Linked DNA regions of Homo sapiens. The protein of the gene in region 3 purifies or fractionates together with the protein of the main gene of each other region. This does not show direct contact. Each region holds a gene or a part of one and is shown on either strand. Other genes may lie near its edges. The genes, in order: CLSTN1, TMEM132A and ST8SIA5.

Evidence for each region.
Region 1: the proteins of ST8SIA5 (region 3) and CLSTN1 purify together in Homo sapiens (affinity purification with mass spectrometry; one large-scale study listed by BioGRID and IntAct). This does not show direct contact.
Region 2: the proteins of ST8SIA5 (region 3) and TMEM132A purify together in Homo sapiens (affinity purification with mass spectrometry; one large-scale study listed by BioGRID and IntAct). This does not show direct contact.

The regions. Positions count from the first base shown.
Region 1 is NC_000001.11:9,750,939-9,754,585, forward strand, and holds part of CLSTN1 (calsyntenin-1 isoform 1 precursor), read right to left. Parts: intron 744-3,647; coding exon 535-743; intron 1-534. UniProt on the Homo sapiens protein: Postsynaptic adhesion molecule that binds to presynaptic neurexins to mediate both excitatory and inhibitory synapse formation.
Region 2 is NC_000011.10:60,927,364-60,931,010, reverse strand, and holds part of TMEM132A (transmembrane protein 132A isoform b precursor), read right to left. Parts: coding exon 3,593-3,647; intron 3,371-3,592; coding exon 3,152-3,370; intron 2,383-3,151; coding exon 2,051-2,382; intron 502-2,050; coding exon 352-501; intron 1-351. UniProt on the Homo sapiens protein: May play a role in embryonic and postnatal development of the brain. Increased resistance to cell death induced by serum starvation in cultured cells. Regulates cAMP-induced GFAP gene expression via STAT3 phosphorylation.
Region 3 is NC_000018.10:46,687,454-46,691,100, forward strand, and holds part of ST8SIA5 (alpha-2,8-sialyltransferase 8E), read right to left. Parts: intron 1,467-3,647; coding exon 1,322-1,466; intron 1-1,321. UniProt on the Homo sapiens protein: Involved in the synthesis of gangliosides GD1c, GT1a, GQ1b, GP1c and GT3 from GD1a, GT1b, GM1b and GD3 respectively.

The DNA.
Region 1 (3,647 bases), on a different chromosome or scaffold from region 3:
CCTGTAATCCCAGCTACTCGAGAGGCTAAGGTAGGAGAATCACTTGAACCCGGGAGGCAGAGGTTGCAGTGAGCTGAGATCGCACCACTGTACTCCAGCCTGGGGAACAGAGTGAGAAACTGTCTCAAAAAAAAACCACAAAAACAAAAACAAAAAACTTAATGGAGAACAGAAAATGAGACAAACTAAATGTAAAGGTCAGTCTCATTCAGATGCATGTGGACTGAAAGTTAAGAAGATTAAAAAAACAAAGCCATGTCAGGTAGGAGGATTTTTATTTGATTTTGGTGGGAAAGCAAAAAAGAGGTGAGCCCCACAAGAGAACACAGGACTTACAGGTTCCAGAGAAGAAGTTGTCAGGGAACAAAGTAGAAACTTAAATGTTTTTACAATTAAAAGCAAACACACACCAGGTTAGGTCTCCAACTTGTGAGTTCCATGAAGTTCTGACGAAGCACAGAAGCTGGGGTGTAAAGTCAGTGGGGTTAGCAGGGACTGTCTACCTAGCTGAAAAGCCGGCTCCTCGATTCTTACCATCTTTGTCAACAGTAAAGGGCACGTCTGGAGTGATGATTTCGTAGCTGCAAATCTGGCTGAACTGAGGGGAGCAGTCGGCATCCACGGCCTCCACCCTCAAAATGCTGTCGTACTGCTTCCCCTCGATGACCGTGGCTTTGTAGGACTTCTCCTTGAACACGGGCGCGTACTCATTCACGTCGTTCACCTGAATATGAACAGTTGCTCTGGACAAAGGGAGGGAGAAAAATATTTTTCTGCTTGTTTTCAGTGTGAGAGAGAGACAGAGAGTGTGTATGTGTGTTTACCCAATTCTGCCCTACTTTAAAATTTCCTGTTTCTGATACCTTGTTTCATGAAATTCATATGATGAAGTCAAAAATTAAACAAGCTATTCACTGCTTTTCATTCAAGTGTGGAGATAACAGAAAGTTAAAAGAGGGATTTGGGTCGATTCTTCCATATCCTAAGAATAAAGCAAAAAACCAATCATCTAAAATAAAAGAGACTTGGGTGTTTTTTTTTGACAATATGGGACAAGACAGGCAGAAGGGAGATAAACAATACCAGACGTCTGTTTGCTCTCCAATTATAAAGTTGAAACATATTTTGTAGCAAAATCCAGAAAAAAAATAGAGCCAAGGGAAGAAGGGGTATGAAACAGAGAAAGCATGAAATGGTTTGATTCTGAGAGTTCAAACGAATTCTGTCCTACTTCTAGGGAATAGGCTGGAGTCCATGGCATCACCTGGTCCTGATTCAACAAATGGAAGAGTTCAGGAGAGGCAGGCCGTTGCCACCTGCCAATACCCCAGCTCAGTTATCAAGAAAATTAGGGTGTCATCAGACCTGGCTACAAATAAAAAAAACTGTAGGTTTCAAGGGCTAATGGTCAGGGCATGCTTCTGAATCAGTCAAGGACTTTGGTCAAAATCTGACCTTTTCAAGGGAAACAATAACATTACACTGTGGAAAAAGAGAAGAGACTCACTGGGGCACTGCACCTTCTGCTCACCATGAGCCTCCTCATCCCAGTGCCATCGGTCTGACCCTCACAATGGGTTATGTGACACCATCTCGCCCACATACCCTTCTTTAGTAGATGTGCTAAGTAGAAACTGAGACTCAGGGCCGGGTGTGGTGGCTCACACCTATCCCAGCACTTTGGGAGGCTGAGGCAGGAGGGTCACCAGAGGTCAGAGTTAAAGACCATCCTGGCCAACATGGTGAAACTCCGTCTCTACCAAAAATACAAAAATTAGCCAGGTGTGGTGGAGCGTGCCTGTAATCCCAGCTGCTTGGGAGGCTGAGGCACGAGAATCGCTTGAACCCTGGAGGTGGAGGTTGCAGTGAGCCGAGATTGTGCCACCGCACTCCAGCCTGGGTGACAGAGCGAGACTCTGCCTCAAAAAATAAGTAAATAAATAAATAAATAAAACAAAAGAAAAAGAAACAGACTCAACAAAATTAAATTTGCACAATGCCAAAGGGCTAGCAAGTGGTGGAGAAAAGACTAGAGCTCTAGAAAAGACTAGAGCTTACAATCTAATTGTAGAAGACACTGGACTTGAGAACACCAGCAGTCCCCAGCCTTTTTGGCACCAAGGACTGATTTCATGGAAGGCAATTTCTCCACAGATGGGGGTGGGAGGATGGTTTTGGGATGAAAATGCCCCACCTCAGATCATCAGGCAGTCGATTCTCATAAGGAGCGCACAACCTAGATCCCTGGCATGCTCAGTTCACAACAGGGTTCGCGCTCCTGTGAGAATCTGATACCGCTGCTGATGTGACAGGAGGTGGAGCTCGGGCAGAAATGCTCACTCGCTCACATGCTGTTGACCTCCTGCTGTGTGGCCTGGTTCCTAACAGGCCACGGACCAGTACTGGCCCACGTCCTGAGGTATGGCGACCCCTGTTCTATGTTGTCTTGTCCAAAGCCCTCTCTGCTACAACTGCAGTTCCTAACTGGCAGGAGGTGCAGCAACACACTCAGGATTGTGGCAGCGAGCCAGCCTACTTCCACCAGCAGTGACTAATTTTTTTTTTTTTTTGAGACGGAGTTTCATTCTTTTTGCCCAGGCTGGAGTGCAATGATGTGATCTTGGCTCAGTGCAACCTCCACCTCCCAGGTTCAAGTGATTCTCCTGCCTCAGCCTCCCGAGAAGCAGGGACTACAGGCGCGTGCCACCATGCCTGGTTAATTTTGTATTTTTAGTAGAGACAGGGTTTCTCCATGTTGGCCAGGCTGGTCATGAACTCCTGACCTCAGGTGAAAATCACCTCAGGTGATCTGCCTGCCTCGGCCTCCCAAAGTGCTGGGATTACAGGCGTGAGCCACCGTGCCTGGCCAATTTTTGTTGTTATTGTTTTTTAGGGACAGGGTCTCATTCTGACACTCAGACTGGAGTACAGTGGCACAATCATGGCTCACTGCAGCCTCAACCTCTCGGGCTCAAGCAATCCTCCCGCCTTAGCCTCCCAAGTAGCTGAGACCACAGGCATGTGCCACCATACCTGGCTGTTTATGTTTTGTAGAGATGGCATCTCCTACATTGTCTAGGCTGCTCTCAAACTCCTAGGCTCAAGCAATCTTCCCACCTCAGCCTCCCAAAGTGCTGGGATTATAGGTGTGAGCCACTGCACCTGGCCAACAATGATTAAGTTTATGCCCTTAGGAATTACAGCAAAAGATAAATATGACAACAAAATAACCTTCCTAAGGGAGAAGCAGACTTTTTCAATTTTTAATGTAGGGCCTTTACTTCTTTAATAGAGTATTTGGTGTGATAAAATTATTCACTCATTCATTTATTAAAAACCTAGGCCGGGTGTGGTGGCTCACGCCTGTAATCCTAGCACTTTGGGAGGCCGAGGCAGGTGAATGATGGGGTCAGGAGTTTGATACCAGCCTGGCCAACATGGTGAAACCCGTCTCTACTAAAAATACAAAAATTAGCCAGGCGTGGTGGCAGGCACCTGTAATCCCAGCTACTCGGGAGGCTGAGGCAGAAAAATCACTTGAAACCGGAAGGCGGAGGTTCCAATGAGCCAAGATCGTGCCACTACACTCCAGCTTGGGTGAAACAGCGAAACTCCATCTCAAAAACAAAACACAAAAAGGCCAGGTA
Region 2 (3,647 bases), on a different chromosome or scaffold from region 3:
TTTTGGGGGAATGTGAACGGCCCAGAGAAAGGATCATTTGGTGGAAGCAGGGGGATGGAGTAGTGGCTATGAGGGCTCTACCTGGGGCACAGGATTGGTTGGCATCTCTTAGAATAAGACTCACAGACACTTGCTATGCCTGGCACATGGCTGGGGCTGGGAAGATAGTGGCCGAATGAATGAATGAAGGAATGGATTATGCCTGCTTTGTGCTGCTTCCTTGAAAAAATCTGTCCTTGGGTCTGCTCACCTGGGGATCTAGAGGCAGCATGGCAGCCTCCAAATCTGCTCAACTGCACTCTATAACCAGCCCTCCCTCCTTTGCCCCCTGGGTGGAGGGAAACTGCCCACCTGGAATCTGGCTCTGTGAGCCCAGCACGGTGGCAGGTGATGAGGGTGGTGTGGTGCCTGGAGCCCTTGAAGCGGTCCAGCTTGGCAGTCCAGAGTGTGGGCTGGGCTGGGCGGGCGGCTGTCACATGCAGCCCCTTCTTCACCTTGATCCTGGGGAAGAGAGTATAGGCTCAGTTTGGCAAGGTGCATGCTGAACTGTGGGCTGGATTGAAGGGGAAAGACAAGGAGCCAAAGCCATCTGACCTCCCTGGCTCCAGTCTGAATCTCCTCTTCACCATCCTCCAACCCAGAAGGACCCCGCCTCAGTGCAGCTCACACCTTACAGCTCTCCCCCACCCAAAGACCACTTACGCCTCCCCACTGCCCATAAGGTCAAAGCTTAGCCGGGCATTTGGGGGCCCTCCAGGGTCTGGTCCAGCCTTAACTTCGGTTGTGACATCTCTCCATGCACTCTCTGCTTCAGCTACACACAAGTTTCCCACACACACGGCACCCATTCGTGACTCCAAGCCTTTGCCCAGTCTGTGCCTTCAGCCTGCTCTGCCCTTTCTTACTTTACCTGCTGATGCTTTAAGCCTCCAACAACTCACAGACCATTTCCTTTAGAAAGCTTTTCCAGTGGTGGGATGAATTTCCCCCTTACTGCACCCACTCACCTGAGCTCCCACCGCACTTTGAACCTCCCTCAGTGCTTACACACCCACATGCCTTCTAATCCAATTCATGCCCATCCAGCTCCCTTCCCTACCACTGGGGCCCCTTTCTGCCAGATAGGGACTGGCCCTTGCTCGTGTTTGGATCTGCAGAGTGAAGACACAGGGCTTGGCAGGCTGTAAGTGTCTAGGAAAGATCTGCTTAATAAGAGTGAGCATAGGAGGGCGTAGGAGATGGGGAGACACAGAGACGGGACATGCACAAACCCAGGCAGGGCTTGAAACTAGGTCTAGGTTTCAAAGCATGTCCACAGACCGCTCTTCGATCCTCAGGAAAGATATCATTACAAAGTGAGCAAGTCCCAGTGCCTCACCCTAACCAAGCCCAGGACTATCCTGCCTAGAACTCAGGCTTCTCAGAATCTTAAAGCCTAAGAGATGCCTCTCCCATGGATTCCTGCGCTGGACTCCAGAAGCAAGTCATACTCTGCAAGCCCTTGCCGGGTGAACTGGGTAGGTGGGTGGGGGCTGCTTTGGGGGAACTTATTACGGAAAAGGACACAAAGAATCAGGGCCTTCCTATGGGGAAGAGCAAGCTCTGTCCAAAGGCTAGACTCCTACGGCGAGGGTGGCAAGGAGGGACAGCATGTAGGTGAACGTGATTGGGGCAAATATCCCTCTCTGGAGCACTGGAGCAAGAGCTCACACTTAGGTACTGCAGTCTCTAAGCCCTTTGCGGGTTCCCCTCCCTGGAGACTTGCAGCTGCCCTGAAGGTGGACCGTTAGCCCCATTGGACAAAGGAATCTCAGGGAGGTGCCAGGGGAAGGGGCAGCTTCCTACTTCTGACTCTAATTCCAGGGCTGTGCCCATGGTGGGCTCCTACCAGCACAGTCATGGCTTTTTACCTGGAAGGAGTTTAGTTTGGTGGACACATGTTTTGCAGAGGTCAAGGATTCCAGCAAGGACCCCAGGAGGAGCAGGTACCTGTCCCTAGTCTTCCCACAGAGGTTCCCACCCTCACCCATCCCCGTGGCCTGGTGCTCACCGCAGGGTCAGGAGGCTGGCTGTGAAGTTGTGCCGAAGCAGGAGGGTAGCACTAAAGAGCTGGCCGGGCCGCACTGGCATGTCAGGCACCCGCAGAGTCACAGCCTCGTCCAGAGGTACCTCCTGGTACTGCGGGGGGTCTGCTGGGCGCAGCTCCACACCCCCCACTGGGAGGGCCTGCTCCCCAGGGTCGTTCTCCTCGCCGGAGCCACAGCCCCCAGGGCCCTCAGCTGCAGGCTCAAGCGTGTAGGCCAGCTCGGCCCGTGTGGTGGAGGCCTGTGAGAACCAGTGCGAGGGAAGCTCCAGCTCCACCACGCAGGCGCCCAGGGATGGCTGTGAAGACACGACAGCAGTAATTGGCATGGGGGTGGGTGCAGGGCGAGGAACAGGATTCTCAGCACCCATGGCAGGAAACCCAGAGCTGGAGGGGCTCATGAAAGGGAGGCCCAGCATGGGCCGGAGACACAGCCTGAGTGACACAGCAAACCAGCAACCTGGCTGGGGCTTCAAACCAGGTCTAGGTTTCAGAGCATGTCCGCAGACCACTCTTCAGCCCTTGGGATAGGTCTCATTACAAAGTAAGCCAATCCCAGGGCCTTACCCTAACCAAGCCCAGGACTATCCTGCCTAGAATCCAGTCTTCTTCTCAGAATCCTAAAGCTCAAGAGACGCCTCTCCCATGGATTCCTGTGCTAGACTCCAAAATAGTGGAAATAGCAATTATAAAAGTAACACTACTAATAATGCAAACACACTGGCTGATTGATTACTCTGCCGTAAGCTATCCTTACATTCATCTCACTTGTTCCTTACTCCAACTCCAGATGGGGTAGGAATTCTTAACACCCCATTCTTCAGATGAGGAAACTGAATCTCAGAGAGATTAAGTTACTTACTCAAAGTCACACACCAAGGACTGAACTCCCTCTGGGGCCCTAAATAACCTTTTCACAGCACTGAAAGCTAGTGGGGGCAGAAATGGAGTCGGGTGGTCCACAACCCCCGCGCTTCCCAGGAGTGGGGGTTTCCTCTCTGCCGCGGGCCCACCACCTGGCTGATGCAGCTGCAGCAGGACCAGCCTAGGTGGGGCCTGTCTACTCACCTGGAAGCGGCAGGCTTGGTGAGCAGTGCCGGCAGGGTGTGTGGCATGGAGCCGGGCACAGGGCAGGCTGCCAGACCCTGGTGGCCAATCCTGCCCTTTGAGGTGGAAGAGAACCCGGGCGTAGGGCTCTGCTGGAGTCACAGCCGCTTCCACTGAAACGGCCCGCACGTCCCATGGGACTGGCCGTTGGTGGGGCTCAGTGACTCGAGGGGGGACCACCTGGAGGGAGAATGAGAGGGCTTAACAAAAGAGGAGCTTGGGAGGGGAAGATCTAGGAAGATGGGATCCCAGCTTGGCAGAAGAGAACCTTTATGGGCCTCAGTTTCCCCCTCTGGAATATGGGGAGCACAGCCGGGGCTGGGGAAGGCTCCCAATTTGTACCCAGCAGACCTCAGGCCCTGAGTCCTGTTAGCCTGAGAGTCCCCGGTGCCCCCTCCTTACCTGCTGAGTGGCAAAAGGTGGGTAGGAGGCCCGGAGAAGTGGCTGGGCCCTGGGC
Region 3 (3,647 bases):
TTCTCCTTGGATCTGTATGTCATACTAAGTTGTGTTACACCCACTGGCATTACCTGCGTGAGATGCAAATCCACCTGCTGTCACCAGCCTCATGTTCCAGGCCTTGTAAGACCCACCTCATAAAGGTGGCTCAGCACCATCCTCCCTTAGGGCCACAGTGATTGAGAACACATTTGACGCCGCTCACCTGCAGCTCCTCCCCCACATCCCCAGAATGCATGAGTCTTACCTATACACTTTGGTACCAGTCACAGAATGCAGGGAACTCTGGGCTTTGTTTCGCACTCAGCCAAGAAGCAAGGCAGCCAAGGCCTTCAGATTTCTTCCAAAAAGACCTCTACATGCCCCCACTCAGAATTTCTATAAACTACATTCACTGAATGCTGTCCTGGGCCCAGAGCTCTCCTGAATGTGGTTATGAACACACCCATGCAACCTTCCTCCTCTTCAGAGTCCATACGCCACCACACCTGGGTAATTGCCAGAACTGGCTGAAAGCGCAGGTTCCAGCGCCCCTTCTCTGAGAGTAGTGCGGTGAGTCTGCACCAACCGTCAGCCCAGGTGATTGCAGGTGCTCAGCATCAGTGATCTGAACAGTTCACGTCTGCAGCTCACTCACTGCGGTCCTCAATGGCCAAGGTCAGTGATCTGAACCATTCAGGTCTGCGGCTCATTCATTTTGTGGTCCTCCATGACCAGGGAGCCACCGTGCCAGCCCTGCACAGCCTACCTCCAGAATTCTTTTATGTGAAAGGAAAAAAATAAATATCTATCTTGATTAAGACTCTGATATTTTAGAAGTTCTGTTATAATCAGCCAAATCTATTCATAGTCCAAGCCCCAGTGTTACAAATAAGGAGATTGAGGCTTTGAAAGACAAAATATCTGCCCACGGTCATCAAGTGAGCTGAATCTTTCAGAGTCTAGATCTGCACTGGGTTGTTCTTTCTTGTGCTCACAACTTCTGCATGTGCGTTTGCTCTTGTGCCTACCTCAGGAGGGGGACGAATGTGTTGTCATTCTCTCCCTATCTGCAGGATATCCTCTGCAAGCAATGCAATACCCAGAATTTTCTAGTCACTTTCTCGCCAAAAGTCACTCAAATCATAGACAGTTGGCAGTCATGGTTCTCAGACAGAACCCCCAAAGAAATCCAGAGGGTGGGCTTCTGCACCTCAGACAACTGGTCAACCAGGACCAAGACAACTGAGTCCAGAGGACCGTGAGTGAGTCAGGCAAAACCCCAGGGACATTGCCACGGAGGGCTACTGCTGGATTGGCTCCCTCGCCCCACCCAGACCGCCCCCGCCCAAAGCAGCACCTTGGGAAACATGCGGAAGATCTCCTGGTTGATGTGGTAGATGCCACTGGTGTCCACCTCATACTTGAGCTTTGTCCCCAGGGGAGTGTTCTTCTGGGTGGTGAAGAGAAAGGCAGGGGCGTTGCAGCACCTGGACAGAGTAGACCTGCCAGGCAGGGAGACAGGCAGGAAAGACGTGATGCAGGAAAGATGTGATGGAGGGCAGAGCACAACCTCACGGAGAACAGAGGGGTGGAGCCGAGGCCTCTCCTGCTCACCTATCCCACGCTTGCCCCCACCCTGCATGGAGCCGAGGCCTCTCCTGCCCACCCATCCCACACACATCCCCACCCTGCATGGAGCCGAGGCCTCTCCTGCCCACTCATTCCCAGGCTTGCCCCCAACCTACACCTCTGCTCATGCAGTCCCCTCCCTTTTCAACGCCTCTCCCAAGGCCCCTGCCTTCTGCCACTCATTCAGGGCCCAGGCCAGGCTTCTTTCCATGAAGCCCCACCCAGCTGCCCCTGTCTGCACTGTATGGAACTCCTCGACGGAGCCTGAGTCCTGGCCACTAATAGAGGGTAAGGAGGAGCTTTCCAAAGAGCTCCCAGCCAGGCCTGGCATGGAAACTTGGGCTGCCGTCCTGGTGTCAAGAGGCCTGGATTCTTGCTTCTGCTCTGCCCCGACCAGTTGTGAGGCTACTGGAAGGTCTCTCTCTTTCTCTCTGGGCCCTAGTTTCCTCATACAGGCTTGGCTCTTCTACCTCTAATCCTCTGTAATTTGTGATTCCAGCTTGCAAAAGCCAGGAATGTTTTATGATTTTTTTTTTTTTTTTTTTGAGACAGGGTCTCACTCTGTCACCCAGGTTGGAGTTCAATGGTGCGATCTCGGCTCACTGCAATCTTCGCCTCCTGGGTTCAAGTGATTCTTCTGCCACAGCCTCCCAAGTAGCTGGGATTACAGGCAAGCACCACCATGCCTGGCTAATTTTTTTTTTTTTTTTTTTTAGTAGAGTCAAGGTTTCTCCATGTTGGCCAGGCTGGTCTCGAACTCCTAACCTCAGGTGATCCACCTGCTTCAGCCTCTCAGACTCCCAAAGTGCTGGGATTACAGGTGTGAGTCACCATGCCTGGCCTATAATGTTTTTTTTTTTAATTTCATCTCTTGCAGGTACTTCACTGGGAAGCCTAGCTGGCTCCCAGTCACAGAGAGCAGAATTTCCTGTGGAGAGCTGGGTTTCAGAATGTAACAGAAGCTTCCCAGAGAGGAGACCAGAGGCCTGGCAAGGCAGGGCCATGGATTGGCATTACAAACTGGCATCTGGGCCTTTTAGCTTTGCTAGTTCAGAAGCTCAGTCTTGTCAGCCCACTGGAGATCACTCCTATTGAGGGATACTGACTCACACTAACCAAGCTCATAAGTGACTGATATACAAACCAGAATGTCAGTGTGCCTATTTGTAGGCAGCAGGGTGGGAGAAGGCCTGTTACAGGATTCATTTCCTGTAATTCGAAAGCTCATGCCTGCCTTCTAGCACCCACCTGACACTCCCTCATGGCACCAGGTTCCTGCCAGCCTGAATGAAGCATCTCATCATTGTTCCATGAGCTTGAAATGAGAGCAAAGGGAGGCAATGACCAGCCTGGAAGGTTTTCTCACTTAGAGCATGGCAAGGCCTGATGTCACTGCCTTTTCTCACACCTGAAACTGCTCCACACCCCTCATGCCCAGAGCTCCACCCCTGCACTGTGCTGTCTTGTCCCTGCCAAAGGCTCCCACACTCATCCCTGTTTTTCTCTTGCCACATCATTTCCCTATTGCTTCATGTTTCCTGAGATATGTGAGTCCTGCTGCTGAGACTTTTTTTTTTTTTTTTTTGAGATGGAGTCTCGCTCTGTCGCCCAGGCTGGAGTGCATTGGCATGATCTCCACTCACTGCAACCTCCACCTCCCGGGTTCAAGCAATTCTCCTGCCTCAGCCTCCCAAGTAGCTAGGATTACAGGTGTGCACCACCACACCTGGCTAATTTCTTTGCATTTTTAGTAGAGACAGGGTTTCACCATGTTGGCCAGGCTGATCTTGAACTCCTGACCTCAGGTGATTCACCCGCCTTGGCCTCCCAAAGTGCTGGGATTATAGACGTGAGCCACCATGCCTGGTCCACTGCTGAGACTTCTATTCTGCCCTAAGTCTGGACAACAGGCTTTTGCCTCTCACTGACCTGGTCCAGGCTGAGTGTTTTATCAGCCATACTCTCAGTGTGTCAGGTCTCACTCGCCCCCAGGGGCACCTCTGTGCAGTGTGCACAGTAACATTTCTAAGGGGCCAATTGGCAGCACAGATTAT